Linked DNA regions of Homo sapiens. The protein of the gene in region 6 purifies or fractionates together with the protein of the main gene of each other region. This does not show direct contact. Each region holds a gene or a part of one and is shown on either strand. Other genes may lie near its edges.

Region 1 (4,512 bases), on a different chromosome or scaffold from region 6:
AAATTCCTTTTAGGCCTTACCAGATACCTGCCTAGGAGAAACTGGAGCTGACAATGGAGATGATGGGAGTTATGTTCAAGTTGCCATATTCTAGCATTCGCCACAACTCCTATCAGTTTTGCCAGGCAACTTACTAGGTGTCTTTCATACCTGCTTCCTTCACCCCCAGTACCTCTATTTTCATAACAAAGAAGAGTTTATGAAAATTACCCTAGCCAAAGGGAACTTTTTGCCCATTTTATTGCTTGTATGTCTTTCACAGTCACAGTCTGACATGCCTGCCCACCATTGCAAGGCGGCTTTTATTGCATGTCTAAAGCAGGCTGTCTTGCTAAACTCTTTCTAAACCAGGAAGTAAAACAAAATCGGTGGTGTGAACACAGTGGGTTTCTAAGCATTTTTCTTGTTTCCTTCCATTATGTTGGAGGATAAATTCCTGGCCCAAAGTTAAAATAATTCCTACAAATGAACAGGAATTTCAGTATGACTTATCCAGTGAAGCACTGGATATAAAGTGAGCTTTTTGCATGCAGAATTGTGATGTATTTTATAAAACCTCTTGAGATTAATGTTTGAGGAGCTAGGTAAAGATGGAAGAGATACTCCTTCAGTAATATAAATGGAAGCGTGTAGTATGCAGATTTACACCCCCCTTCCAACTCACTGTAACTTTAAAGCTGTCTGTTAGAAGGATGAAATGTAGTTGTGAGCCAGACCATGTTGGTTTGGACAGAAATTCTTACAGAATTATTAAGCCTTAAAAAAAGCAAAGGAGATTTATGCATCTGCATTTGACCAATTTGGTTTGGAATAAGTTCATAATGGAAAAGTAATAAAACCATAAGAGACAGTGTCTTCTGAGTACAGTCTCGCTTTTAAAAAATCTAAACATGCACTGCCCTATTTTGGATACAGTGACTGTAGAAAAATTTCCCATTGGTAACTTTGGGAGGGTTTTCTGTTGTTGTTGTTGTTCCTTTTTCATTGATTATCAGCCAGTATAAATTTTAAGCTTTCTGTCAAATATTTTTCTGGAGATGTCAGTCTTAGGGAAAAGAAATCCTAAAGTGTTATCTGTAGGAGTCTCCTTCTCCCAATTTCACCCCCTCCCCGAAACCTCCACCTCCCACCCCCCAACACACATAGTGTTTTTTAGATATCAGTAAAGTCTTTTTCTGGTGTAACTGGAGAGGTTGGGGTTTGGAGAGTAGGGGGTGGTTGAATGTGTGAGAGAAAGCACCTCCTGTGACTGCCAGCAGCCACAGAAGACCATGAAGAGGAAACGCATAACAAGCTTCACCTCTGAAAAATCGGACCTAATAACTTCGCAAGTTTTTGATTTCAACAGGAAAGAAAAAGAAAAGAAAACCGCTTTCTCCACTTATTCTCAACCACTTGAAGTAGTGTTATTGATAAACAATTTCTTAAAAATATTTAAAGATTTAGGAATAGAAACAAAGGAAATGAAGGCTGAGTGATTTGGGCAAGGGAAGGTGTGAGTCTGGTGGGGAGGGGTGTAGGAGCAGACATCTTGCACACAGGAGAGGCATGGTTGCATTTCCCATAGAGGACAGCAAAATAGGCATTTTATTGAATCGGATTTTTAACTTTCTTTCCACGGCCAGCAGTTCAAAGCACAGTTATTTTTATATAGTGAGAATGTGACCAGACTGAGATGGTGTTGTGTCTCTCCTGCAGGTATGCCTGCAGCATCTTTAGTGACCCCTGCTGATGTTATCAAGACGAGATTACAGGTGGCTGCCCGGGCTGGCCAAACCACTTACAGCGGAGTGATAGACTGCTTTAGAAAGATACTGCGTGAAGAAGGACCAAAAGCTCTGTGGAAGGGAGCTGGTGGTATGGAAATAATGTGTTCTTAACTAACTCTTTGGTATCAGGTAAATTTTTAAAATATCTAATTATATCTGTGATTTCTCCATTTTTTTAAAGCTCGTGTATTTCGATCCTCACCCCAGTTTGGTGTAACTTTGCTGACTTACGAATTGCTACAGCGATGGTTCTACATTGATTTTGGAGGAGTGTAAGTATCATGCTAAATCTGCTGCTAAATTTTGGCTGCTGCTAATGCTCTGTTGTCGTAGGGAAAGGTACCTCAGTCTAGTCTCTATAATAAAATAGAAGAGATTTAGGGAAATGTTGAAATTGTGTTAACAAGGTCATTTCCAAGGGGAACATACAACTGATGAGAATGTATCAACTCCTTTACATTAAATATTTGAACAGGTTTTGAATGTTATTTTTATCAAGTTAAAACAAACAAAAAATACAGCTTCTTACTCTGTTTTCTCTTCTTTTAGAAAACCCATGGGATCAGAGCCAGTTCCTAAATCCAGGATCAACCTGCCTGCCCCGAATCCTGATCACGTTGGGGGCTACAAACTGGCAGTTGCTACATTTGCAGGGATTGAAAACAAATTTGGACTTTACCTACCTCTCTTCAAGCCATCAGTATCTACCTCAAAGGCTATTGGTGGAGGCCCATAGGAAGATCAGCCCTGGGATAGTGCTGTCTTTTTGTGGGTACTGCAGTAAAGAACATCCCTCCTGGGAATGAAGCAATGCTTCATCCCTTTTACGTCCATCTCTTGTTTAAATTCAAGTCCAGGCTTTTTTATCATGTGAAATCATTCATTTTCTGGGTGTTTTCTTAACCAGATCATTGTGAAATTATTCATAATTATTATTTGGCCCTCTGCCCAGAAACCTTTGTTTGCATCTGAAAATTGATGGGATTTGGTCAACACTAACATGATTTGGGGAAAGGAGCAAGTCAGAATAGAAATTAGTACTCCCCTCCTTGAACTAGGATTGTAGTCCCAAAGAGGCTACTGTAAGGCAATCATGGTGCTCAGAGCAGTGTTTCGTGTGTGTTTTAAACTGGTAGGAAACTAGGTGCATATTTATAAAAATAAAAAACACTGGGAGAAATGAAAAAATATATATCAAATATATTCAGCCTGGCTTCAAATTGTAAGCATGCACAAATTCTGTCTCTGGATTATATTATGAAGCTTTTATGTGAAACATGTTTCTTTGTAATGAAAACCACATTGGAGATGTTTAGTAATCATATTGTTACTGGTACCAAGACTACTAGGGAAATGCCTTTGTACTTTAGGGAAGTACTTTTGGCATTTTACTGTACAGACAGAAAAAACTGAGATGTAGCCCCTCTCCTGGAAGTGCTAATTTTGAAAAACTGCTCATATGATGTACATGTACTGATTACTGCCTATTTTAATAAACACTCTTGAAAAATGCATGTTGCCCTGTTGCTGCCTGCCCTATTCTCCTCATCTCCCCATCATTGGTACCCACTTGCTTTTAAAATCCACTTTATCTTGAATAATGTAAGACAAATATGTTCTGACATAAGTATTTAATTCATGTTGCCTTGCATAATGGTCAGAGGCGCATGAATTTGTGAAGGTGGAAATAAACTATTTGTAAAGTGATTGAGTTGTTTGGTCTTGTGCATGTTGCATGGTGAGTGGATACAGTAATTGTCATTATTGGCCTACATGTTTTGTTTTGAGGGGAATTTTATTCATATTGGCATGGATATATCCTCAGTATCTTTCAAGGTAATGTGTTCCCTCATTTTCATGGTTCAAAGTGAGTACAAGAAACTGTATTTAACCATAGATAAGCAAAGAACTAGCAAACTGACACCTTAGTTCTAGTCATTCCAGCACTTTCGGCAGTTTATTGTGATGATGAAGGTCACATAGTTTTAGTAGAACTTAGCCATGAAAACTGGTATGAAATGGCAGTCGTATTTTCTAATCCAGTCTGACTCTTGCACACACCAAAACCATATACCACTGTATCTAACATTTGCTATTATTTGGCTAGCACTATAATGATTTGGGGAAAGAAGCTAGTCTTGAACAGGATTTAAGGCTATTCTTAGACCGTGATCATGCTTCCAAAGAGGCTACTAATTAATCTGTTGGCAGTCTGTATGAACATTTTGAGTTTCCAAAGTTTTTCTCCATAGCAGACAGCCATTTGTCAGTCTGTTTCTGTAAGTCAACAGGCTGACATTTGAAGTTACAGTTTAAAATTGGCAAGAGTCAATACCCGCCATAAATGGCTGATTTTTTAGAGGGGGAGGGTCAGGAGGGGAGTGAAGAGCTTTGTCTTCTTCACTAGAAACAGGACAGATAACATACATGGCTCCTTCTGTGATTATTTGACAAAACCAAAGGGGAATCCCCTCCCCAAATTCAGTGTGATAAGTGATAAATATCTGTATTATAATCTCAGAGACTAGTCACAGAACTCCAAATATGTGTTAGAAATGTGGTTGGTGTTAGAACAAAACATGCCAACTTTGGTCTTTTGAATGTGGAGAAAAGGCCCTGCATCTCTGCATTCCTTTTCTTCACTTGTTTGAGATTTTATGGCAGATCAAGTTTTCTTGGTAAAAACACTGACCAAAAATCTCATAACTTGTCCATGGCCCTGCCTGCCTCTTAAAGAGCAGTT
Region 2 (4,633 bases), on a different chromosome or scaffold from region 6:
GACATTTTCATTAATTTTTACGTCTAGATTTTCTGCTTGGAATTTTGGAGCATTGTCATTGATATCAGTTACTTCTATTTCTATCCCAAAAAGTTTCACCCTGTCTTCCACAAGGATATTAAAACTCACCACGCACCGCGCGCTCTGAGCGCAGAGCTCCTCCCGGTCTATCCTGCCCGCGGTGATCAAGCTGCCGCTGCGCGGGTTCAGAGAGAAAAGCTGCGTCCTACCTCTGGAGACTATGCGGACTCCGCGCTCCGCCAGCTCCCGGGGCGCCAGACCCAAGTCCTTGGAGATGTTGCCCACGAAAGAGCCTTTCTCTAATTCCTCAGGAATTGAGTAGGAGATCTGCCGGGCTCCAGCCTCCCATGGAATCCCGAAGAAAAGGCAGAGCAGGACCAGCCCGCTGCAATCCTTTGATTCCTTTGAGCGATTCCTTTGAGCGGCCATTGTAGTCTGGTTACAGAATTCTGCAAAGTCCTCACTGGACACGTTGTGTGTTTCAACCGGTTCCTTTGTCTTTCTGTGGCTTCAGGGTGTCTCTGTAGCCTGGGCACTTTAAATTCTGGAGTGAGCTTCCCTGCAGCCCAGCAGCCGGTTTGTGGGGCTTGTGTAGTTGAAGCCCTGAGAATCCGGATTGAGCTCTGGCTGCGTTTTCTCTCCTAGTAGGTGAACAGCGGCGCTCAGAGTCCTAAGAAGTTACTGCACCCAAGTGATACATGCAATGGAAAGTAAACTATTCTGTTGGATTATTATATTTTACATAGATTCTTTGGTTTCTCCACTCCTATCTTTAAATAATTTACTATATGTAGGTTTCTTAGGGGAGGTGTGATAAAGTGGAGTGAAAATATTGTAAATATTTCAAGATAATGTTTGGTTAAATATATATTTGCAACACGTTTTCCCAACAGAAATGTACACACTTTAATAAAAGGTAAATAATACTTATTTTAGGTCATATTAGTGTCTAGGTAAATTCAGAAAAGTCTTATAATTTAAAATTGTGATTTGAATAGGCCAATTTTATTTAGTATACATTCATACAAAGATTATATTAAATAAACTCATGAGATAATTCACTCTGAAGCTTTATAATTGTAACTACTTAATTCATTAAACTTATTTAGCTTAGGATTGTGTAAGAGGTTTTTAAAGTACTCTTCTAGAATAGTTTTACTGAGCCTTAATTAACCTTTTTGTGTAAAACATACTTTATCTTACAGGGATACAAGTTAAATGGACCTATTTAAATGATTAAGCAGGTAATCACAAACTAAAATGAACATATATTACAGTTGCAAATTAAACTGTTTGCATTGTAATGAGAAAAGAAATACGTAGAATTTGAAGTACTAAAAGTTTTAGAAAACAAAGTTAGATGTAGTGATATAGGTTTTTAACAAGTAAGTGTTTATGTCAAATGACCTGTTTTCATCAGAGCATTAATACCAGTATAAATAATCTCTTCTCTTAGGCAGTTTGTATCAGAGGCCAAAGTCCAGTGGTTCACATATCTTCAACTGTGTGTGCCCATCAACCCAGTAGCAATTGTTCCCTCAAATGCAAAGGGTATAGAAGTTCACTTCTTTCACACAGAGAACAGGATGTTCAGAAGTGTTTATGTCACTATGCCTTCCAAGTATAGAACTCTTCAAAGATTTTATCTTTTTTCTTCAAAAATCTTCTATCAGAGAATCAGAGACAGAGACTGAGTGCAAAGGCAATAGTATTTCATTTATTTCTTAGAAATGTCTTTTTTTTTTGAGACAGGGTCTCACTCTGTCACCTAGACAGCTCACTGCAGCCTAGACTTCCTGGGCTCAAGCGATTCTCCCACCACAGCCACCAGAGTAGCTGAGACCACAGGCATGTGCCACCACACCCTGCTAATTTTTAAATGTTCTGTAGCGATGGAGTCTCCCTGTGTTGCCCAGGCTGGTCTCAAATTCCTGCGCTCAAGAGATTCTCCACCTCCACCTCCCAAAGTGCTGGGATTACAGCACACTTGGCCCTGCCTGCATATTTATTTATTTATTTTAGAGACAGGGTCGCACTCTGTCGCCCAGGCTGGAGTGCAGTGGCAAGATCAGGGCTCACTGCAACCTTGACCTCCCAGGACCAAGCAATCCACCCAGCTCAGCCTCCCAAGTAGCTGGGACCACAGGGGAATGCTACCACACTCTGCTAATGTTTTTTTTTGTTGTTGTTGTTTTAGTAGAGATGGGGGGTCTCCCTATATTGCCCAGGCTGGTCTCAATTCTTGGGCTCAAGTGATACTTTCCGATTCAGCCTATCAAAGTGCTGTGATTATAGGTGTGAGCCACTGGGCCTGTCTTCTGAATATTTTTAGGCTTTAAAAATATATAAATAAGATATCGTAAATTCACTAAGTCTTCGCAAATTTGAATAGATAGGTTACTTGTTTGTTTTCTTAGATGCCAAGACCACTGCTTCTGTTCGATAGTCAGAACTTGACAAAATATTGTGGCTCACGCCTGTAATCCCAGCACTTTGAGAGGCCAAGGTGGGAGGATCACGAGGACAGGAGTTTCTGAACAGCCTGGTCGACATAGTGAAACCCCATGTCTACTAAAAATACAAAAAATTTAGCTGTGGTGAGGGGCACCAGTAATCCCAGCTACTTGGGAGGCTGAGGCAGGAGAATCGCTTGAACCCAGAAGGCGGAGGTTGCAGTGAGCAGAGATCACGCCACTGCACTCCAGCCTAGGCAACAGTGCGAGACTCCATCTCAAAAAAAAAAAAAAAAAAAAAAGACAAAGACAAAATATCTTCAGTCTGGTGACATTATTTTACAAAAAGATAGAGCAACTTATGAACCAAATACATAGTGAAAACTATAATTGAAAAAACATTGAGAAAATATTGTAAAAAGCTATGGATTTTAAACATATGATTCTAGATATGAAAATAAAGTAGTATGCCTAAAATATGAGAAACTAGTAGACTATTAGATAAATCACACACAAAAAAGAGAAACTCACCGAAGTCAGAGTCTCAGGATGTGAAGTCAAATCCTCCCCACCATGAGGTGGAATTAAGGCTCCAGGAGAAACACTGCAAACCATGTCTTCATTGGAATGTAGGGGCACACTGCATTTTAGGAAATTAAACTCTTTTGTACCCGTATGTGCAATGCACAGATTATAAGAATAAGGCAAAGTCCCCTCACTGTAGTTGGGGGGAACTACAGGTCCAGACTTGACACAGAGACCAGGATGGAAGCAGTCCCAAGTAGCAGGGCTGAGAGAGCGTCGCAGGCGCAAGGCAATGGCCAGAATCACGGCGAGGAGGAAGAGCACTGAGATTAAGGCCAAGGCCACCACCAGGTAAAACTGCAGTTCAGCCTGGGGGTCAGAGAGTACAGGGCGGTCGCTGAGGTCTGGCAGTATCTCTTGCAAGTTGTCTGCGAAGACCAGATGAAGCGTGGCGGTGGCAGAGAGTGGCGGCTGTCCACCGTCACGCACAGCGACCAGCAGGCGCTGGCGGGCTGCGTCCCTGTCGCCTAAGGCTCGAGCCGTGCGCACCTCCCCAGTGCGCAGCCCCAGGCTGAAGAGTCCGGGCTCACTGGCCTGCAGCACGTGGTAGGACAGCCAGGCGTTGTGTCCCGAGTCGGCGTCCACCGCTACCACCTTAGTCACTAGGTAGCCGGGCTCTGCAGAGCGAGGTACCATATCGAAGAACGCGGAGCCGTCAGGACCCAGAGCTGGGTACAGCACCCGCGGTGCGTTGTCATTGCGGTCTCCCACCAACACGCGCAGGCTCACGTTGGCGCTGAGCGTGGGCGAGCCGTGGTCGCGGGCCTGCAGCGTGAGCGCGAAGGCGCGCAGCTGCTCGTGATCAAAGGCGCGCTGCGCGAACACCACCCCGCTCTGCGCGCTCACTGACACGTATGACGACACCGCCAGGGGCTCTAGGTCACTCGCCACTATAGAGTAGGAGATGTGGCCATTGAGCCCCAAATCCGGGTCAGAGGCGCTCACTTGCGCAATGGAGGCTCCTGGCGGGTTGTTCTCGGCCACGTGGACCACGTAGGACGTCTGGTCGAAAACTGGGGCGTTGTCGTTGATGTCAGCGACATACAAGGTGATGCTTCTACTGGAAGAAAGAGGCGGCTTGCCCCTGTCAGTGGCTACGATGGTGACATTGTATTCTGGTGTCTGCTCTCGGTCCAGGGCTCCATCTGTCACCAGTTTGTAGTAGTTATTGGAAGAAGAATAAATCTTGAATGGAATGTCTGTTTCTATATTACACCTGACTTCTCCATTTCCTCCGAAATCCAGATCCCGTGTTTTGAAGAGGGCAACAACCATTCCTGGAGGTGAATTCTCCAAAATCTGATCAGAGAGAGAAGTGATGATTATTTCTGGGCTGTTGTCGTTTTCATCAAGGATTTCTATGATTACTTTACACTGGGTAGAGAGACCACCTCCGTCCTTCGCTTCCACTTCCATGGTGTACCTTTCTACATCTTCAAAATCAAATGACTGGTTATTCTTAATCATACCTGTTTTCTCATCCAATGAGAACATATGTTTTGTGCTCTGGGCAGTGCTTCGGAAGTAGTAGTTTATCTCAGCATTGACCCCCTCATCCTGGTCAGTGGCTGTCA
Region 3 (4,633 bases), on a different chromosome or scaffold from region 6:
CCAGGCTGGAGAGCAGAGGCATGATCATGGCAGGGTCAAGTCAAGTGATTTCTCCTACCTCAACCCCCTGTGTAGCTCAGACTATAGGCGCATGCCATCACATCTGGCTAATTTTTGTACTTTTGGTGAGACAGGGTTTCACCATGTTGCTCAGGCTGGTCTTGAACTCCTGAGTACACGCAATCCATCTGTATTGGACTCCCAAAGTGCTGGGATTACAGGCATGAGCCACCGTGCCCAGCCAAAAAGATTTTAAAATGTGCAAATTATCACAAAGTTTGTAGGAGACAGAAATGACTTAACATAATAACTAATGCCATACCCTACCAAAAATACTACTCAACACTATATATTCTCTTAGATTATATTCTGTCCGTTAATTCAGACTTTGAACTAATTAGCACAGAATTTGCATAGAACTAAAAAGTGTTTTACAATTGGAAGAAAAAAGTTAAGTGCCACCTGAAGGAAAGACTGGCTTCCTACTGTGTATACAGGGACATCATCTTGTAATATTCACTCCTAAGAAAGTTCTACTTATTTGTTAAGCTTAATGCTACTGGTAAGTAGCTGTCACTCAGCACAAGAAAAGCTTTTAATTCAGGCCCTTAAATCCATTTTGTAGTGGTCTCAATTTTTTCCTAAGTGTATTAACTTCTCTATGTTGTATACCTTACAGCTCAGAATTTTCAACAGATGCTATTGGGCATAACAGTGTATAGGTTTCAAGCATGAAACCAAATCTCACAAGAGATTTAAAAGCACTTGAATTTTCTTTCCCAGGTAACCACAACATTTGTTCATTGTATAAATGACTAAGGAAAAAATTGCACCTAACAAGACTCTTATTATACTAAAAGTCAAGCTTATATTTAAAGATGCTGGCTTGTTGTACAGAGGGTATTCTCATTCCCCACAGGGAATAAAATTAGGTCCCCTGGAGAGTAGAATAATTCCCAGAAAGAAAGCACTGGATTATTTCTCTCTAATTTCACCTATTGGCTTTTTAACCAAGTTCACCCTTCCGCATTAAAATATTAAGTCTTTGTAAATGCCTTAAAGATAAAAAGGCCTTTACAGAGTTGAGTGTTTTCTGCAGGTGAGATTTTACATTCTGAATTCCCTCCTCTCAAATTACTTTACAAAGGGGATTAACTGCTCTCTTTATTCAAATACGTTAAGATCAAGCTTGCGAAAAGAGTCCCCTAAGAATTTTCATACTTCTGGGTACGGAAGTCTATAAAGTTAATCTCTGAAACAACATATCAAGCTTACAGGTACAATGTTGAGAGAAGAGTGCCAATTCAGCTCATTTTACCTTCCATTTTCCCTTTTGAACTTTTGACACAATCATGATTATATCTGATTCACTCTAACAGAAAGGGGAGGGGTGAGGGGGAAAAGTACTTTCCCTTCTATGATTAGCTAATAGTTTGATAGTTTATATACTTAAATTTAGAGGACCATGATTAGCTTAAGAAAGTTCCTTTAGTTTTCTTAACTGGTTATGATTTCTCTTTTTGCATGAGGACTGCTTTAGAGTTTAAAGTCACATCAAGAAATTCAAACATCACTTGCCCATTACATATGCAGTGGTTAACTTAGCCTGTTAAACGTCTTCCTCATCATTACAAGGATTTGTAATTCAATGTAACTGATTAAAATAACTAAGTGCAAAATGTGGGTTTTTTTTTTTTGTTGTTGTTGTTGTTTAAGGTACTGAACTATCACTGCTGAAACTCCTGTGATTGGTCACTTTCAATTTATTTAACTTTCATAAAATGATTGAAGGGCGGAGAGGTTTTTTACCTACAGCTTCAGGAGGACTAAACTATTATTTACTGATCATCTATAAAAGGGCACCATGCTAGATAAGGGAGAATCATTATTTATAATGATGAATAAGATGCAGACCTGGCCCTTATGAAACATACACCAATCAAGGTTAGAAAATAAGCATATAAAAAGTTGAATTTCCATGGTTAAAAATACTACAAACTGGCTGGGCATGATGGCTCAAGCCTGTAATCCCTGTACTTTGGAAGGCTGAGGTGGGAGGATCACAGGAGTTTGAGACCAGGCTGGGCAACATGGTGAGACCCCCATCTCTACAAAAAATAAAAAATTAGCTGGGCAGGCTGGGCGTGGTGGCTCATGCCTGTAATCCCAGCACTTTGGGAGGCCAAGGCGGGTGGATCATCTGAGGTCAGGAGTTCGCGACCAGCCTGGACAACATGGTGAAACCCTGTCTCTACTAAAAACACAAAAATTAGCCAGGCATGGTGGCGGGTACCTGTAATCCCAGCTACTCGGGATGCTGAGGCAGAACTGCTTGAACCCGGGAAGCGGAGACTGCAGTGAACCAAGATTGCGCCACTGCACTCCAGCCTGGGCAACAAGAGCGAAACTCTGTTTAAAAAAAAAAAAATTAGCTGGGTATGGTGGCACATGCCTGTAGTGGGAAGATAAGGTGTCAGGATGGCTTCAGCCTTCGAGGCTGAGGCTGCATGAGCTGTGATCACATCACTCACTGTATTTCAGCCTGGGTGACAGAGGGAGACGGTCTCAAAAAAAAGGGGGGCATTTTGGTGAATACATTATCCATTACTCTATTAAATACACATAACTTTTGAATGAACAATTTCAATGGGAATTAATCCTACAAATATTTCCACACATACAAAAATATTTTAGCATTGTAATAGACACAAAAAAAAACCCCAAAAAAGACCAGAAACAATAAATCTTACATTACAAGCTTATATTACACAGCTTTTTACAAAATATAACTCAGCCATAGGTTAATCAGAAAAGCTGTCTAGAATGTATGACATGTAAAAAGTTTCAGGCTGGGTGCGGTGGCTTATGCCTATAATCCCAGCACTTTGGGAGGCTGAGGCGGGTGGATCACTTGAGGTCAGGAGTTCAAGACCAGCCTGGCCAATACAGTGAAACCCCATCTCTACTAAAAATACAAACATTAGCCGGGTGAGGTGGCACGAGCCTGTAATTCCTGCTACTCCGGAGGCTATGGCAGGATAATCGCTTGAACCCGGGAGGCGGAGGTTGCAGTGAGGTGAGATCATGCCACTGCACTCCAGCCTGGGCGACAGAGCGAGACTCCACCTCAAAAAAAAAAAAAAAAAAAAAGTTTCAGAACAGTATATTATATAGCATAATACCATTTGTATAATATGAAAAGCACGGAAGAATTGACAATTGATTTGGCCCGGATTCATTCATTCTTTCCCCTCCTTTTCTTTCCTTTCCTCAGTCTCTCTGCTTCCCCTCCCTCTCCCCCTCCCTCCCTCCCCTTCCTTCCTTTAGAGACAGGGTCTCCCTAAGTTGCTCAGGCTGGTCTTGAACTCCTGGGCTCAAGGGATCCTTCCACCTCAGCCTCCCAAAGTGCTGGAATATGAGGTGTGAGCCACTGCGTACGGCCAGTCAGGACTCTTTTTCGTTTTGTTTGTTTTTGAGACAGAGTTTCGCTCTTGTCGCCCATGCTAGGGTAAAATGGCGCGAGTGCAATGGCCTCAGCCAGGACTCTTTTAACACAGAGCTAGCCATACTATAAGACAGCTGAAAATGGTGAAAATAGTGTGAGCTAAATGCAGAGAAGAAACAAGTACAGTGTATATTTAGTATATAATTCTTGAATATTCTAAAGCATAGGGAATGATGGGAAATAAAACTGAAAAGTTTAAATTGCACTCTAAATATGGGGCTAAGGTGACTACCTGTGAGCATCAGGAGTTAATAAATATGTTTGAATAGAAAAATGATAGCTATGAACAGAAAAAATAGAACAGAGAAGTTACTACAGAAGTAGAAGCCACAGATGAGCTGCATGTAGCATTAAGGTGTAGAATTAAGAACAGATGGCTCTAGTTGATTCCTAGGTTTATCTGCTTTGAAATGTATGGACAAGAGTCAGACTACTGAGGCAAATTACAGCAAAAATCCCTTAAAGGTTTTATCTTGGATGCCACTTTAAATGCTCTAGATTTACCCAGAAAGAATGCTGAATTCTGAAATTAAATGTAAATCAGGCTTAAATATTGTTAACTTACTTTAAGATGACTAAAACTTTTGAAATTTAAACAGCAAGATTTAGTATTCTCTCACTCTAATATTCATATTTTCCCCCTAATTTTAAGAGAAGTTGCTTAGTATCAGGCTGAGTATAAAGTGGAAGCCACAATTTTCTTCCTAGCTACTGTTCATTTTATTTCTTAACAGGTAAAAGTGTTAAATACAACCATCTGTATGAAATAATATTTGTAGGAAATACAAGAAATATGTTATTTGTGGGAAATAACAATAGATCAGCCGATGTGGGCACAGTGATCACAGACAGGTAAGATGGGAGACAAGCAAAAGTAAAGTACAGCATAGGGCAAGAACCAAAAAGTAAGCCACAGCCTTCATCTATTTGTATAGGTATATACTAGTAAATGCTGAAGATTCTGAGTTTGAGTAACCCTGGACTACTTTAGACTTCAATTTTGTTCATGGAGTTCAAAAGTTCTGCAAATCACGTTTCATCATAAATCTGAAGCAAAGACAGAGGCTCAAATAATCTGGATAGCTCTCAAGGGTTCTATATTAGAAACCCAATATTAACAGTCACTTA
Region 4 (3,703 bases), on a different chromosome or scaffold from region 6:
CAAGTTTTTGACTTTATATATTTATTTATTTGAGACAAGGTCTTGCTCTGTTGCCCAGGCTGGAGTACATGGGTGTGATCATGGCTCACTGTAGCCTCAGACTCCTGGGCTCAAGTGATCCTCCCAACTCAGCCTCCCGAGTAGCTATAAGTGCAAACCACCACAGGTAATTTTTTTTTTTTTTTGAGATGGAGTCTCACTCTATTGCTCAGGGTGGAGTGCAGTGGTGTGATCTTGCCTCACTGCAACCTCCGCCTCCTGGGTTCAAGCAATTCTCCTGTGTCAGCCTCCCAAGTAGCTGGAATTACAGGTATCCACCACCATGCCTGGCTAATTTTTGTATTTTTAATAGAGATGGAGTTTCACCAACATGGCGGCCAGGCTGGTCTTGAACTCTTGACCTCTAGTGATACCTGCCTCATCCCAAAGTGGTGGAATTACAGGTGTAAGCCACTGTGCCCAGCCTGTGGCTGGATAATTTAAAAATTTTTTTGTAGAGGTGGGGCCTCACTTTGTTACCCAGGCTGGTCTTGAACTCCTGGGCTCAAGTGATCCTCCCACCTTGGCCTCCCAAAGTGTTGGGATTACAAGCATGAGCTGCAGCGCCTGGCCAAATCCTTTCCTATGATTTGAATTCAGTTTTACAAACATTATCTTTTTTTCTTCAAAAAGAAAATAATCATAATGATAATAACAGCAGCTACTTATAAAGCATTTACAAGGCATTATAACAAATATCTTATACTTGGTAATCTCGCTCAAATCATCTCAATGACCTTCTATGTAAGGGTTATTATCTCATTTTACAAAAAGGAAACTGAGGTTCGAAGATTTACCTAAGGTCATATAAAGTCTGACTCCAGAAGTCCAATTATACCATTTTGTCATCCTTAAAAAAGTGATTTATTGGTCTCTGATACTAAGTTATTCTTCAGTGTATTATATTGCTGTTCTTCATAATTCCATTAACAAATTGGGTGTCATTTCAGGGCCCAGTATTAAATAATGATCTTTCTTCCTCAGTTTGCTGTACACAGGGAAAAGACAGAAAAAAATTCCTATATGACAAGTTTTTGTTTGTGTCCAATTACAGAGTTCCATAAGACTATGATTTGAATATTGTGGTACAACTTAAATTTGGCACATTATTTAATTATCCAAAGTTTATTACATGTTTGAGTGCACATTAAAGAGATTATTTGGCATAATTGACAAGATAAAATTTCTGTACCTTATTTGACTATCAGGTGTATATGTGGTATATTTATGTATGTGTGTGTATAGACACACATATACTCCTAAATTAAATATATTTGTATAAAAAGCTAAAGATTACTATGTTAAGATTAATTCATTAAAAAATCTATTATATTAAATTGCATCTGCATTCAAAGCAGAAATGTAAAAAAACAAATCAGTGTACTAAATACACACGAATTTACAAAGTAATTGAAAATGAAATAAAAATTTCTATTGAAATGTTATATTCTTGTTTAATTGGCATTTAAGTGGCACTATCAAACTATGGAAATAAACATCATTTTTTAGATTGTTGAGATAATAAAGATTCTACAAGCATTACCATACCCTTGTACCCTCTAAATTAAGATTCAGCATTATTATAGTAGGAAAAAATGGCAGATAATTTTCTTCTTTATTAATATGGGAATTCTCAGGAAGCAATTAGGGCAGTGTCTGCACTCCTGGGCTTGTGTTTTCAGCTCTTCCATCAGTGGAAGTCTGGCTTCTCAGGAAAGGTGCAGCCAGTCCGTCTAATTATGATGCTTGCTGCATAGTGGCCAGCACGGATACATTCAGTCAGAGGCTTGTCAGAGACCAGTTGAGACAGAAAACCTAGAACACAGGCAAAAAAAAACACATGAGTATTGTATAACAGCAGCAGAAATGTCATATTGGGTCAGACCAATATATGATCTAAGCACCTGTCTCATTCTTCAGCCTTGACAGTAAGAGAAAGTCTTGTGCGTTACCGTTAGGGAGGTCTTTTTTTTTTTTTTTTTCCCCGAGATGGAGTCTTGCCCTGTCACGCAGGCTGGAGTACAGTGGCATCATCTTGGCCACTGCAACCTCCGCCTCCCAGGTTCAAGCAATTCTCCTGCCTCAGCCTCCTGAATAGCTGGGACTACAGGCATGCACCACCATGCCTAGCTAATTCTTGTAGTTTCAGTAGAGATGGGGTTTCACCATGCTGGCCAGGCTGGTCTTAAACTCCTGACCTCGTGATCTGCCTGCCTTGGCCTGGGATTACAGGTGTTGAGCCACTGTGCCCGGTCGGGAGATCTTTTCCCAAACATCATGAGCTTCCCCTAATATTTATTCTAAAGAGCTCAAGTTGAGACACAACAACTTGCCATCAAGTCAATCTGGTCTTCCTTTTTTTTTTTTTTTTTGAGGTGGAGTTCCACTCTTGTTGCCCAGGCTGGAGTGCAATGGCATGATCCTGGCCCACTGCAATCTCTGCCTCCCAGGTTCAAGCCATTCTTCTGCCTCAGGCTCCCGAGTAGCTGGGATTACAGGTGCCTTCCATCACGCCCAGCTAATTTTTGTATTTTTAGTAGAGATGGGGTTTCACCATGTTGGCCAGGCTGTTCTCAAACTCCTGACCTCAGGTGATCCGCCTGCCTTGGCCTCCCAAAGTGCTGGGATTACAGGCGTGAGCCACCACACCCAGCCAGGGAAGCATATGTTGATAGGGTCTCAAAATCAACATGGTGAAACACCGTCTCTACTAAAAATACAAAAGTAAATTATCTATACTGGTAATGTGTATATATAATTATACATACGAGCAATGAACAATTAGAAGTTACTAAGAATAAGCCAGGCATCGTGGCTCATGCCTATAATCCCAGCACTCTGAGAGGCCAAGATGGGTGAATTGCTTGAGCTCAGGAGTTTGAGACCAGCATGAGCAACATGGCGAAATCCTGTCTCTACAAAAAATACAAAAATTAGCCATGCATGTTGGTGCATGCCTGTAGACCTAGCTACTCAGGAGGCTGAGGTGAGAGGATTGCTTAAGCCTGGAAGGTTGCGGCTGTGGTTAGCTATGATCATATCACTGCACCCCAACCTGGGTAACAGAGTAGGACCCTGTCTCAAAAACAAAAATTGATTAAAAAGTTAAGAATATTTATCCATATTTATTCTAAGGTACTTCACATACTTCAAATATTTGAAGTACCTTAGAATAAATCTGACAGAAGTTGTGTAGGGCCTGCACATTGAAAATGACAAAACAATGCTGAGAAATATAAAAGAAGCCTAAATAAATAGACATAAAGTGTTCAAAGGTCAGAAGATTCAATATTATCAGTTCTGCAGGAATTTTTCTATTAATTCATTGGAATACTAATAAAAATTCTAGCAGATTTTTCTTATAGAAACTGACAAGCTGCTTCTAAAATTTATATGGAAATTCAAAGGACCTAGGTTAGCAAAAACTCAACTTTGAAAAAGAAGAACAAAGCCAGAGGATTTATACTACCTGATTTCAAAATTTATTATAGAATGATAATAACCAAGACACTATGGTATTAGCATATAGACAAATAGATCAATGGAACTGAACAGAGTCCAGAAATAAACCTACTTCTGTATAGCCAACTGATTTTTGACACAGGTGCCCAAACAATCCCATCAAGAAAGGACACTTTAACAAATTGTGTGAAAAAAAAGCATT
Region 5 (4,537 bases), on a different chromosome or scaffold from region 6:
TGATTCTCCTCCTCAGACTCCTGAGTAGCTGGGATTACAGGCACATGCCACCATGCCCGGCTGATTTTTATATTTTTAGTAGAGATGGGGTTTCACCATGTTGGCCAGGCTGGTCTTGAACTCCTGACCTCAAGTGATCCACCCACCTCGGCCTCCCAAAGTGCTGGGATTACAGGCGTGAGCCACCGCACCCGGCCTGTAGGTTTTAACTAATAATTAGGGTATTACTCTATCATTCTCTATCATTCAAATTCTCCAGGTACTGACCTGGTTTTTATTTTATTTATTTATTTATTTACTTATTTATTTTTGAGACAGGGTCTCACTCTGCTGCCCAGGCTAGAGTACAGTAGTGGCACAATCTTGGCTCACTGCAGTCTCCACCTCCTGGGTTCTATTGATTCTTGTGCCTCAGCCTCCCAAGTAGCTGGGACTACAGGCGTGCACCACCACACCAGGCTAATTTTTGTATTTTTTGTAGAGATGGGGTCTCACCATGTTGGCCAGGCTGGTCTCAAACTCCTGACCTCAGGTGATCCACCCACTTTGGCCTCCCAAAGTGCTGGAATTACAGGCATGAGGCACTACACCTGGTCAGACCTTGTTTTTAAATTATGATTCGATGTACATGTCAAAAATTAAATTATTTCATGCATTACGTCCTACTGAATTTGTGTTTCAAATGAAATAATCAATTTTAGGATTCCTACACTTATTTTATAAAAGTGAAAATTAAATCAAATGATCTAACTATTTCCAAGCAAATTTTGGGATGAAAGCTATTCTAGGAAGGCTTGCCCTTGATTCTTGCTACATGTACTTGTTCAGCCACTCAATTAAATTCCTTCTGGCCTCGTCAATGTAGGGCTTGTCTGCAGGTGAGCAATCTTCTCTCTTCCGATGCACGAACCCATGAGTCTGCCCAGAAAATGTTTTAATTTGATATTCAACTTTGCAGTGTTCTTTCAACTTCTGAGTCAGCAAAGATACCTGGTGTGCAAAAGATTTCATGATTTTAACCCTTTAGTGATACTTTCCATTCTCCAAATCTTTAGTGAGCGTTCATAACAGAAATTTAACATCAATGCTTTAAATCAGAAACAAGTTCCACAGTTACACTGAATTCTTTCCCACTAATTTTTTTCTTTTTAGACAGGGTCTCACTCTGTTGCCCAGGTTGGAGTTCAGTGGCGCCATCTCAGCTCACTGCAACCTCTGCCTCCCACATTCAAGTGATTCTCCTGCCTCAGCCTCCGGAGAAGCCGGGATGACAGGCACCCGCCACCATGCCCAGCTAATTTTTGTATTTTTAGTAGAGACAGGGTTTCACCATGTTGACCAGGCTAGTCTCAAACTCCTGACCTCAAGTGATCTGCCTGCCTCTGCCTCCCAATGTGTTGGGATTACAGGCGTGAGCCACGGCGCCCGGCCTCTACTGCTAATTTTATAACTAACACAGTCCTTATGTCTGGCAAAGGAGAGATTTCAGGGAAATGGAAAAATGATACATCTATTATTTGAAATCACTTGCATTAATATATTAGTTACTAATATTATAACAATAATTTCTAAATGACTGCTTTTTTTTCTTAAGAGTCAGGGTCTCACTCTGTCACCCAGGCTGGAGTGCGGTGGCACAATCGTGGCTCACTGCAGCCTCCAACTCCTGTGCTCAGGCAATCTTCCTGCCTCAGGCTCCCAAATAGCTGGGACTACAGATGTGTGCCACCATCCCAGCTAATTTTTTTATATTTTTGTGGAGAAGGGATCTAGCTAGACTGCCTAGCCTGGTCTTAAACTCTCAGCCTCAATCAATCCTCCCACCTCAGCCTTCTGAGTTTCTGGAATTACAGGCATGAGCCACCACGCCCAGCTAAATGACTGCTTTTGAACCATACTTTTCTTCTGCTTTTTCCTTATCAACTGACTTTGTTTAATAAATCCTTGTCTTTAAGGTCACAGACTTTATTGTAATTTGTGGGTTAGCATGGAGGTGGGGCAAGAGGTCCCGTTTCTCCACCAGGTAACCAGGCCATGCTGAGAATACTTCCCTCAGACATTTCCTTAAGCATGTTTTGGGAAGGTTATACTTCCACACTGGAATTATATAAGTGGAATTGAATAAAACCCATCTTTAAAATGTTAATGTTGGAAATATTTGGAGCAACAAATGCATCCTTCAAGACTTCCCACTCCCCGCAGAATGTCAAACCGTGCTATTAAATATATAAATGAGGCCAGGCGTGGTGGCTCACACCCATAATCCCATCACTTTGGGAGGCCAAGGCAGGCAGATCACCTGAAGTCAGGAGTTCAAGACCAGCCTGGTCAACATGGTGAAACCCCGTCTCTACTAAAAATACAAAAATTACCCAGGTGCGGTGGTGGGCGCCTGTAGTCCCAGCTACTCGGGAGGCTGAGGCACAAGAATGGCTTGAACCTGGGAGGTGGAGGTTGCAGTGAGCCGAGATCGCGCCACTGCATTCCAGCCTGGGCGACAGAGCGAGACTCCATCTCAAATAAATAAATACGAAGAGAAAAGATGCCAACTTACGTCCTTGAGTGGAATCACAACATCATTTTCAGCAAAAATGAACAAAGTGGGGTTCTTTAAATTGTAAATGTCTTCAGAATCCTTGACAATGCCTGAAAAACAAGCACAGAGGCATGATGTCTGATCCCCACACTCATGCCACATGATCCCCACACCCATGCCGCATGATCCCCACACTCATGCCACAGAAAACTGCAACATTTGGGTTTGATTTTTCAAAGTAAAATCTCTGCTTTGCGGACTTTATTTTCTTTTTTAGCCATTCCACAGAAGTGGCCCCACTTGTAAGATTAGCGTAAAAGAAGGCCGGGCGCGGTGGCTCACGCCTGTAATCCCAGCACTTCGAGAGGCTGAGGCAGGTGGATGGCTTGGGCTCAGGAGTTTGAGAGCAGCCTGGGTAACATCGCAAAACCCTGTCTCTACAAAAAATACAAACATAAGCCGGGTGTGGTGGTGCATGCCTGTAGTCTCAGCTACTTGCGGGGACTAAGGTGGGCGGATTGCTTGAGCCTGGAAAGTTGAGGCTGCAGTGAGCCGTTTGTGCCACTGCACTCCAGCTTGGGCAACAAAGTGAGACCCCGTCAAAACAAAACAAACAAACAAAAAACCCAAAGCCTGGGCGCAGTGACTCAAGCCTGTAATCCCAGCACTTTGGGAGGTCGAGGAGGGCGGATCATGAGGTCAGGAGTCCGAGACTAGCCTGGCCAACATGGTGAAACCCTGTCTCTACTAAAAATACAAAAATTAGCTAGGTGTGGTGGCACGCGCCTGCAATCTCAGCTACTCGGGAGGCTGAGGCAGGAGAATGGCTTGAACCCGGGAGGTGGAGGTTGCAGTGAGCCAAGATCATGCCATTGCACTCCAGCTCTGGGCAACAGAGCAAGACTCCGTCTCAGAAAAAAAAAAAAAAAGAGGATTATAAGAGTACAAGAGAAATTTATTTAGTCAGATCCTCCTACTGTCTACCTCCCCACTTTATGGACTGGGAATCAGGCCATTAAATAATTGAATGATACCTCGTCCGCTGCTTAGTATGGAAAGATGCGGAGCAGCCTGAGGAATGTCCCGCTGGGATGTACCTTCGTTTACAAAGAGGATCAATGTCAAACCTTCGCTTGAGAAGTTTCTCAGGTCTACACAAGTCCCACGGGTTCTGGCTTGAATGCACTGAGTAGTTTTGTTGGTAAGAGGAGCTGTCTTTTGAGTGGGTATTTAGACTCGCACCAGACCACGAGTGTGGAAGTGTGGAAGTGTGAAACTGCCTGGGCCTAGCAGGTCAGTCTATAAAAATCAGTTTTTGGCCGGGCGAGGTGGCTCACACCTGTAATCCCAGCACTTTGGGAGGCCAAGGCGGGGTGGATCACTTGAGGTCAGGAGTTCGAGACCAGCCTGGCCACCCACGCAAAACCTTGTCTCTACTAAAAATACAAAATTAGCTGGGTGTTGTAGCCCCAGCTACTCAGGAGGCTGAGACAGGAGAATTGCTTGGACCCAGGAGGTGGAGGTTCAGTGAGCCAAGATCGTGCCACTGCACTCCAGCCTGGGTGACAGAACAAGATGCTGTCTCAAAAAATAATAACAATAGTTTTCATCTTTCATCTCAGCATTCATTCGAGATTAATTCTGAAATTAGAAGCATGCTCTGCCTGACCCAGGTTGTCTGAAAACAACCTGTGGGTGTGTCCACTTCTATGCGAAAATAAGTAAGTAAAAGATTTGCAGCAAGTTAACCATTTTAAGATAAGAAGACGTAAATAACATAACTTTTTTCCACTTCCTGCTGGCAGCAGAAGAGCTAAGTAACAGAGAGAGCCTCCTTCACCTGTAACTCCTCTTCAGGAGGCAGGGAGCCACGGGAAAGGTGACCACGCTCCCTTCCCCACTCTAGCAAAGCTACTTCATGTGGATGGGCCTCTTTTGATATCCCTGGGCCTGAGCCCGGCCACGCTCTGCAGCTCACGCACTACACAACAGCGGCCAGAA
Region 6 (4,190 bases):
GGTTCTTTCTATGTTGCCCAGGATGGTATCAAACTCTCAGCCTCCAGTGATCTTCACCTTGGCCTCCCAAAGTGCTGGGATTACAGGCGTGAGCCATGGCATAGGCCTTGCTATTTTCTTTCTTTCTTTCTTTCTTTCTTTTTGAGAAGGAATCTTGCTCTGTTACCCAGGCTGGAGTGCAGTGGCACGATCTTGGCTCACTGCAACCTCTGCCTCCTGGGTTCAAGCAATTCTCCTGCCTTAGCCTCCCGAGTAGCTGGGAGTACAGGTGCGTGCCACCACACCTGGCTAATTTTTGTATTTTTAGTAGAGATGGGGTTTCACTACCAGGCTGGTCTCGAACTTCTGACCTCAAGTGATGCACCGGCCTCGGCCTCCCAAAGTGCTGGGATTACAGATGTGAGCCACTGCCTCGCCATTTTCTCTTTGCTGTTCCCACCTCCTAAATTCTAGACAATGGCTCTGAAACTACAGCAAGCCTCAGAATCACCCCACGGCCTGTTTAGATGGCTGGGCTCCACCCCCATAGATTCTGATTCACTAGGTCTGGAGTGGGGCAGAACATGCATCTCTAACAAGGTTATGGGTTATGTCTGTGCTGCTGGTTCCAGGGATCACACTTTGAGAACCACTGCCCTAGCCCAGCTCTAGACCTTTGGGGCTTCTGGGACCCCTGATCCTGGGATTCTGTCTCAAGGTTTGACAGAAATGAATTTTAGACAAATTAAACATCATTTTATGCAGTGAGTGGTGAACCTGTAGAACTTGTTTTTCCAAAAGATTCTATCTTCTGGAAATAGAAACACTGTTGGGCAGAGCCTGTTCTGCTTGGTTTGACTGAAAATGAAACAAACTTGTTCTCAGTCTCTGCCTGGGGTCTGAGAATTTTCAGCAATAGCATTTGCTCAACACCCAGTTGTGGGGTCAACCAAGGTGGAGAAAATGCCAGCCCCTAGCCTGGTCAGGAAGGCAGACAAGTAGGTGGGTATCTACAGATAGCTGCTACCAGGCATTTCATAGTATTGCTTCTGAAACTCAGCAGGGATAGAAGTGAAAGGGAGGAGCTGGGAGCAGCAAAAGAGTGGAAAGCGAGAGGCGTGTGCTGCAGGGCTGCCTTTTCTCTCCTGCCAGAGGGCACATATCCCATGGAACCAATGCCAAGCAGAGGGGGGTTCACAGAGGCCCACAGAAGCATGTATAAACCGGAGCAAGGAACCCAACAACTATGGAAAGAGAAATCAGAGGAAAAACAGGAAACTTGGGAGGCCAGGAAGAGAAGGATCTCATGGGTAGGGGGGCAGCTGGTCAGTTGACAGAGGAAGGAATCCAGCATATTAATTTCAGATACATTGTAGTTCATGGCATTTTATAGCCTGCCTAGAGAGCCAACCACATCACGGCATCGTTTCGGTATCATTTCCTTGGAAAAATGTCTGGCAGCCTGGGCAACATGGCGAAATATCACTTCTCTACAAAAAAAAAACCCCCCAAAATTAGCTGAGTGTGGTGGCGTGCACCTGTGGTCCCAGCTACACGAGAGGCTGAGGTGGGCAGATTGCTTGAGCCTGGGAGGTTGAGGCTGTAGTGAGCCGTGTTGGTGCCGCTGCACTCCAGCCCGGGCGACAGAACGAGACTGCGTCTCAGAAAAAATAAAAATAAAAAAGCCTGGAATGAGCAGTTTGAGTTCTCAGGACTGCTAGCAGAAATGACTGGATTACGTGGGGTCTTCATTTTTGTAAGTGCTTAGTTAGCATAACTGTTAGGCCAGTGTAGCCCTGCTGGCATTATGGGAGTAAATCACCTCTATAATAAATTGTACCCTTTGTCTTATTTAGTTTTTCAGAAAAGGCTTGATGAATTCAAGAGGTGAGGGGTCCTAGAGGAAAAGGAGACCTGCGGCCTCACAGTCTGATGCTAGGGTGAACACCTGTTCCCCTCCCTGAAATATTCCAGGGGCCCAGGTCAGAGCAGAGTTTTGCATGATCAGACCCGGGCAGACGAGGGGTTTTCATCTACCTTGGTGCTGCCGGTTTGGGAAAATTCTTAAGGGACTGACTCCACATCTCCAAAGAGCCCCTCGGCATTCTTGGGACCCCTGGTCCATTTATTGTAAAAATTGCTGGCTCTTCTGTGGACTCCCTTAAATTTCCTCAAGAAAAATGGGATGGCAGCTAAAGAGGGTCCCTGCTCTTTTTAAAAATCTCCTTCCTATGATCTAGGGCGAAAAGCGAATGAGAAGGAGCGGCAGGCAGCCCTGCAGGTGGCCGAGGGCTTCATCTCGCGCATGCAGTACGCCCCGAACACTCAGGTGAGGAGATGCGCACAACCACAGCCCTCTTCCTAGGGCTCTTCCTGTGGCCCCTGACCCCTCAAATTGGCCAGGAAGGGCAGGAGAGCCTTGGGCACTGTCAGGAACAACCAGGCCTCCCTCTTAGACCCATCCAGTGGGAAAGCCCATCTCAATCCTTCAAAATGTCAAAATACTTATTATTTTCAAAGAGGATGTTGGGCAGCACTCTCCTGGGTGCCCAGAGAACTGGGTACTCCTCCTCTGGGCCGTTGTCCCTGGCTGGTGCCACCCCTCCTGCCGCAGCACAGTGTCCACAAGTCATCCCGTGGGGAGCTGACAGGGCTCAGCTACCGTTGGTGGCATTTATTAAACTGTGCACCCACGCCCTTGAAGCAGTCTGTTGCCTCTGTCTGTGTCCCTGAAATCTTGGTTCTCATCTCATGGCTCATCCAGGGGAGCTTTCCCAGCCTGGACTGCACATGGATTCAGGCCAGGCGCCCACACCCTCCTCCCTGGCTCTGGCCCCCTCCTGTCCTCCTGGGCAGAGGCAGAGGTGGCAACTTTGTGAACCAGACTTCTCCCCCGCTGTCCCTGCAGGTGGAGATTCTGCCTCAGGGCCATGAGAGTCCCATCTTCAAGCAATTTTTCAAGGACTGGAAATGAGGGTGGGCGTCTTCCTGCCCCATGCTCCCCTGCCCCCCACCACCTGCCTGCTTGCTTCTCTGGCTGCCTGGTCAGTGCAGAGGTGCCCCCTGCAGATGTTCAATAAAGGAGACAAGTGCTTTCCCAGCTCTTTTCCTGCACCACCTGCCCTGGGCTGATTCTCACTGTCACCCACCTATTCACCTGGGTTCATCCCCATGCTGGGGGTGGAGTAGCACACAGATGACAATTGGACAGCCTTGGAGGGGCCAGAGCTGCTTTGCATGACAGAGGAGTCCCAGCCAGGCTTGCAGGGACTGCCATGAACCCAATAGGGAGGTGGCACAGTGCCAGGCCTCAGGATCAGTTGCATCCGGGTGTTCAGTTCAGTCTCACATTCCCAACAGGGAGAAGGTTGTGGCAATGGGCTTGGGATGCAGTTCCATTTAAGGCAGTATTTCTTCGGATGCCCTAATAAAGCACTGCCAGGCAGCTTCAAGTGACATATGCCCACTGAGCAAGAGAGGACAGCCTTTCACAATTGTACCAAGCCTGGCTTATTACTTCGTAGGCACATTGCCCAGCATGTTTGGCTGGTGAGCCCAGGGCCACTGCAGGGCTGTGCGAAAAGCACCAGGCTAGCATGGACAGTCTTCAGTCTGGTTCTTACCCTGCCTCTGTGATCCTAGGCAAGTTACTTTCCTTTGCTAGACCTTAGTTCATTCTCTTGGGTAATGAAGTGGTGGTGGGATGTCAGAGGCTAGAGAGCTAAATAGCAGGGAGAATGCAGTAGCCAAGAAGAGGTCCCATCTGAGAAGGCATGCCCAGGGGCCAAGAGCAGGGTGTGAGTGAGCCTGTGTCAGCTTGGACCAGAGGCCGTGAGGCCTGGCAAGGCTGCAACCACCCTGACTCATCCTCACCCCCAGGTCCTCTGGACTATGTGGCTTCTGAGCTCCAGAAATTGGATTCTTTCATCCCAAAACAAAAATTCTGATCAATTGGCAAGTTGAACTTGCTGATTTGTGCCAAGAACCATACCATAGATACCCCAGCCGGGTGCGGTGGTTCACGCCTATAACCCCAGCACTTTGGGAGGGCAAGACGGGCGGATCATTTGTGATCAGGAGTTTGAGACCAGTCTGGCCAACATGGAAACCCTTTCTCTACTAAAAATACAAAAAATTAGCCGGGCATGGTTGCGCATGCCTGTAATCTCAGCTACTTGGGAGGCTGAGGCAGGAGAATCGCTTAAACCCGG
Region 7 (4,633 bases), on a different chromosome or scaffold from region 6:
AACCTAGGATGTGGAGGTTACAGTGAGCCAAGATCGCCGCCCCACTGCACTCCAGCCTGGGTGACAGAGCGAGACTCTGTCAAACAAACAAATAAATGAAGAAAAAGGTGCTAGGAGAGCTCAGTAGAGGAAGTTCTTGGGCGTCCACACTTCCCTTCCAGCTGTGTAGTCCTCGGAGATTCCACCCAGTGCACAAATGCAACTGACTTCTGAGCAACCCCCATCTGCAGGTGGGCTCACCCCAGCTCCCAGCACATCCTCTCTCCCCTACCTTGCCTCTCCATTCAGGGCAGGAGCAGAGCCTGCCTGAGGACCTAGCTCTGTGCAGGTCCCTGACCTCTAGAAGTGTCCCCAGCACCCAGGGCAAACTGGTCTGTGGCAAGAAGGGAGTTCCTGATTTTGTGGAACTAGGCGACAGTGACAACAAGCCTGCCACAAGAGACAATGAATGTTGAGGGGTCAGAGCCACAACAGGGGCCGGACATCAGTTAGAGTCCATAGGAAGCCACGACAAAGTCTCAGCCAGATCCTAACTAGGTGCTGTACTTCACTTCCAGTTTCTTAAAACACCGACCACCAGCCCTGCAGAGGAGAGGTCACTCGGGCAGAGAACCAAGCCACCCCAGGGTGGCCAGTGTCTTCACACTGAGTGAGGAAATGCTGCTGCTGGGGCAATCTCAACGGTCATGCTCTTGCCTCAGTCAGGGCCAGGATGGGTCCTGAGGCAGCCCAAAAACAGAAACAGGCCCAGAGAGGCGGAGCCACATGGGGCCAGAGACCCCAGGAGGCCCTCAAGCCTTCAGCCAAAGCACCTGGATGTCAGAGCTGGGTAAACTGGGATACAACCCCAGCCACTTTAAGGGCACAAAGAGCACCAGGATGTAAAATCAGCAACAGCGGGCGGTGGGACCCCGGAGCCCACTCACTCCATCCCCAGCCCTACTCCTGAGGCACCCAGTTTGAAACCACCTATCCATGAACCTCTCCTTTCAAGATGGAGAAAATGGCCTGTAATCCCAGTACTCTAGGGAAGCTGAGGCAGGTGGATCGCTTAAGCCCAGGAGTTTGAGACCAGCCTGGGCAAAATGACAAAACCTCAACTCTACAAAAAATACAAAAATTAGCCAAGGCATAGTGGCTCATGCCTGTGGTCCCAGCTACTTGTGAGGCTGAGATGAGGGCATCATTTGAGCCCAGGAGGCGGAGGCTGCAGTGAGCAGAGATCACGCCACAGCATTCTAGCCTGGGCAACTGAGAACCTGAGATAGGAAGGTTTTTTTGTTTTGTTTTGTTTTTTTAAGAGCCAGGGTTTCACTGTTGCCCAGGCTGGAGTGCAGAGCCATGATCATAACTCACTGCAGCCTTGAACTCCTGGGCTCAAGTGATCCTCACACCTCAGCCTCCCAAGTAGCTGGGACTACAGGCACATGCACAGCTCTTTCTTTTTTTTGTAGAGATGAGGTCTCACTATGTTGCCCAGTTTGGTCCTGAACTCCCAGGCTCAAGCAATCCTCCCACCCTGGCCTCCCAAAGTGCTGTGAATACAGGCATGAGCCACCGCACCTGGCCGGAAGGGCCTTTCTGACAAAGGCACAGCCACTAGGAACAGAGCCAGGGTTGGACTCATCTCCTGTGTCCACCAGCCAGGACTGGCCAGGCATTAACCTCCCCAAAGCTGTGGGTCAGAAACCCTGGGGGGACTTGTTGAAAGCACAGACCACCTTCCCTTTTGAATCAGGCCTGACTGTGATGGAGTCCTCAGATGACACTTGCACTGTTTGGATAACACCACAGTCTGGCCCTGGTGAGAACTGAGAAATCTTTGCCACCAGCCTCAGCATCCAGGCCACTTCTGACAAGGCCACTGGGGTTTTGTTTTTTTAAAGCCAGGATGAGCTGGACCCTTGCCATAATTCCTTCAGCCCATGGAAGGAGATGACCCCAGAGAAGCTCTAGCCACTGTGGGCGCTGCCTCAACAAAGAGCCTTCTGTGAGGTCTGTCCCTTCACCTCCAGGCCCAACTCCTGACAGAGGCCAGTGTCCCTGCTTCCTGGGCCTGGTGAGGTTCACTGCACACGGGTCAGCAATGGCATAGGAATGGGAAAGCTATCGAGAAACGAGCCTGGGTCCTCACAGAATGTACAAATCCTGTCTCAGTAAGTGGCCAGCAAAAGATTGGACCAAAGCTAGACATGGTAGCACATGTCTGTGGTCCCAGCTACCCAGGAGGGTGAGGCAGGATTGCTATAGCCTAGGAGTTCAAGACTGCAGGGAGCCATGACTGTGCCTCTGTACTCCAGACCTGGTGGGTGACACAGCAAGACCCTGTCTTAAAAAAAAAGAAAAAAGGAAAAGGGGCCAGGAGCGGTGGCTCACGCCTATAATCCCAGCACTTTGGGAGGCCGAGGCGGGCGGATCACCTGAGGTCAGGAGTTCAAGACCAACCTCAACATGGAGAAACCCCGTCTCTACGGGGTAAAAATACAAAATTAGCCGGGCGTGGTGGTGCATGCCTGTAATCCCAGCTACTTGGGAGGCTGAGGCAGGAGAATTGCTTGAACCTGGGAGGCGGAGTTTGTGGTGAGCCAAGATCGCACCATTGCACTCCAGCCTGGGCAACAAGAGTGAAACTCCATCTCAAAAGAAAAAGAACTGGATCAAAGTCCTGTGAGCTCCCCCAGAAAAGGGGACATTCTGACAAACTGTCACTTTAGCTGTGACTACAGCCCAGATTGGGCCAGGGCTTCCGGACTGAGCCTTCACTCTATGCCTCATTGCAGAGAGGGAACAGTGGGCCTCAAGATAAACATCTGGGGACAAGAAACAGAAGACTACCTGTGTCTCAAGTCTTCCTTGATTAGCTTTTGGGTGCAAACACACACATACTCTTGGCTCACAACTTTCAAAATATGGGTTGCATAGCAACGTTATTTCCTTCTGAAAAATAAGTTTTCCCTCCTTTTTTGCATATTTTAAACATATACATACACACACACAGTCACTGTATTTTACATATCCTTTTTTTCTTTTGCAAATGGATATTTTTTGAGTTCAGTGAGCTTCCCTCTCCAAGACATTACAATGTAAACATGGTGTAACTCTCGGACACCACAGTATGTTTCCGGAGGGGTAACGGCGGTGAGGAAATCAGACTTTGCCTAACAAAGAACTAGGAGACACACTTGACATTCCACTCTTTTGGAGCACCCTACATTTGTAAATCTTATTTCTCTCCAAGTGCCTTTCAGACTGACTAATATCCACCGCGGCTGTACCTGGCCTTCCCTTTCACCTTTTTCACCATTCTCCAGCCTGGCACAGACTGCTTGCCCAAGAGGCATTCTTTTTTTTTTTTGAGAAGAAGTTTCAATTTTGTTGCCCAGGCCAGAGTGCAATGGTGCAATCTCAGCTCACCGCAACTTCTGCCTCCCGGGTTCAAGTGATTCTCCTGCCTCAGCCTCCTGAGTAGCTGGGATTACAGGCGCCCGCCACCACGTCCAGCTAATTTTTTGTATTTTTAGTAGGGACAGGGTTTCACCATGTTGGCCAAGCTGGTCTCGATCTCCTGACCTTCAGGTGATCCACTCGCCTACACCTCCCAAAGTGCTGGGATTAAAGGGATGAGTCACTGCGCCTGGCCGAAACATTATTTATTTTTGGAGACAGGGTCTTGCTAATGTTACCCAGGCTGGTCTTGAACTCCTGGCCTCAAGCGAACCTTCTGCCTTGGCCTCCCAAAGTGCTGGCATACATGTAACACCATGCCCAACTATTTTTCTTTTCTTGGCCTTTCTTTCTTTCTCTCTCTCTCTCTTTCTTTCTTTTGAGACACAGTCTCACTCTGTCACCCATGCTGCAGTGTGTGGCATGTTCAAGGCTCACTACAGCCTCAACTTCCTGGGCTCAAGTGATCCTCTGCCTCAGCCTCCCATGTAGCTGGGACTACAGGTACACATCACCACACCTAGCCAATTAAAAAAAATGTTTGGCCGGGGGCAGTGGTTCACACTCGTAATCCCAGCACTTCGGGAGGCCGAGGTGGGTGGATCACCTGAGGTCAAGAGACCAGCCTGGCCAAGATGGTGAAACCCCATCTCTACTAAAAATACAAAAATTAGCCGGTGCGGTGGCGGATGCCTGTAGTCCCAGCTACTCAGGAGGCTAGGGCAGGAGAATCAGTTGAACCTGGGAGGCAGAGGTTGCAGTGAGCCAAGATTGTGCTGCTGCACTCTAGCCTGGGCGATAGAGCAAGACTCCATCTCAAAAAAAAAATTTTTTTTTTAAGCTATGGGGTCTCACTGTGTTGCCCAGGTTGGTCTGGAACTCCTGGGCTCAAGCAATCCTCCCACCTTGGCCTCCCAAAGTGCTGTGATTACAGGCATGAACCACCATGCCCTGCCAAGAAGCATTCCTGACAGCATGAGCCCCAACCAGACAGTACGGAATGGCCACCAATTCCCAGCCTGGGCAAGTAACTTAACACACTAGCCTCAGTGTTCCCGTCTATAAAATGTGAATACAACACAATCTATCTCACAGGGTTATTCTCAGGATGCAACAAACGATGATGCTGTGTCATACCAGATACCTACTTGGCAGCTCAGGAACCCTGTAAACATCTGCATGTTTTATC

What was found.
Region 1: the proteins of CAPG (region 6) and SLC25A13 purify together in Homo sapiens (co-immunoprecipitation; one large-scale study listed by IntAct). This does not show direct contact.
Region 2: the proteins of CAPG (region 6) and PCDHGA9 purify together in Homo sapiens (co-immunoprecipitation; one large-scale study listed by IntAct). This does not show direct contact.
Region 3: the proteins of CAPG (region 6) and SNX3 fractionate together in Homo sapiens (co-fractionation; one large-scale study listed by BioGRID). This does not show direct contact.
Region 4: the proteins of CAPG (region 6) and ADK fractionate together in Homo sapiens (co-fractionation; one large-scale study listed by BioGRID). This does not show direct contact.
Region 5: the proteins of CAPG (region 6) and CMBL fractionate together in Homo sapiens (co-fractionation; one large-scale study listed by BioGRID). This does not show direct contact.
Region 7: the proteins of CAPG (region 6) and TKT fractionate together in Homo sapiens (co-fractionation; one large-scale study listed by BioGRID). This does not show direct contact.

What each region holds. Positions count from the first base shown.
Region 1 is NC_000007.14:96,119,184-96,123,695, reverse strand, and holds the end of SLC25A13 (electrogenic aspartate/glutamate antiporter SLC25A13, mitochondrial), read left to right. Parts: intron 1-1,698; coding exon 1,699-1,857; intron 1,858-1,950; coding exon 1,951-2,041; intron 2,042-2,318; coding exon 2,319-2,505; 3' UTR 2,506-3,476; downstream 3,477-4,512. UniProt on the Homo sapiens protein: Mitochondrial electrogenic aspartate/glutamate antiporter that favors efflux of aspartate and entry of glutamate and proton within the mitochondria as part of the malate-aspartate shuttle.
Region 2 is NC_000005.10:141,408,993-141,413,625, reverse strand, and holds part of PCDHGA9 (protocadherin gamma-A9 isoform 1 precursor), read right to left. Parts: coding exon of another isoform or gene 2,961-4,633; intron 1,688-2,960; coding exon of another isoform or gene 1,664-1,687; exon of another isoform or gene 1,005-1,663; intron 640-1,004; exon of another isoform or gene 451-639; coding exon of another isoform or gene 1-450. Other genes in the region: PCDHGA10 (protocadherin gamma-A10 isoform 1 precursor), read right to left, coding at 1-450; PCDHGB6 (protocadherin gamma-B6 isoform 1 precursor), read right to left, coding at 3,006-4,633. UniProt on the Homo sapiens protein: Potential calcium-dependent cell-adhesion protein. May be involved in the establishment and maintenance of specific neuronal connections in the brain.
Region 3 is NC_000006.12:108,226,131-108,230,763, forward strand, and holds part of SNX3 (sorting nexin-3), read right to left. Parts: intron 1-4,633. UniProt on the Homo sapiens protein: Phosphoinositide-binding protein required for multivesicular body formation. Specifically binds phosphatidylinositol 3-phosphate (PtdIns(P3)).
Region 4 is NC_000010.11:74,706,472-74,710,174, reverse strand, and holds the end of ADK (adenosine kinase), read right to left. Parts: intron 1,855-3,703; coding exon 1,730-1,854; 3' UTR 885-1,729; downstream 1-884. UniProt on the Homo sapiens protein: Catalyzes the phosphorylation of the purine nucleoside adenosine at the 5' position in an ATP-dependent manner. Serves as a potential regulator of concentrations of extracellular adenosine and intracellular adenine nucleotides.
Region 5 is NC_000005.10:10,279,643-10,284,179, forward strand, and holds part of CMBL (carboxymethylenebutenolidase homolog), read right to left. Parts: intron 2,647-4,537; coding exon 2,555-2,646; intron 991-2,554; coding exon 811-990; 3' UTR 1-810. UniProt on the Homo sapiens protein: Cysteine hydrolase. Can convert the prodrug olmesartan medoxomil into its pharmacologically active metabolite olmerstatan, an angiotensin receptor blocker, in liver and intestine. May also activate beta-lactam antibiotics faropenem medoxomil and lenampicillin.
Region 6 is NC_000002.12:85,393,656-85,397,845, reverse strand, and holds the end of CAPG (macrophage-capping protein), read left to right. Parts: intron 1-2,219; coding exon 2,220-2,308; intron 2,309-2,887; coding exon 2,888-2,953; 3' UTR 2,954-3,093; downstream 3,094-4,190. UniProt on the Homo sapiens protein: Calcium-sensitive protein which reversibly blocks the barbed ends of actin filaments but does not sever preformed actin filaments. May play an important role in macrophage function.
Region 7 is NC_000003.12:53,249,502-53,254,134, forward strand, and holds part of TKT (transketolase), read right to left. Parts: intron 1-4,633. UniProt on the Homo sapiens protein: Catalyzes the transfer of a two-carbon ketol group from a ketose donor to an aldose acceptor, via a covalent intermediate with the cofactor thiamine pyrophosphate.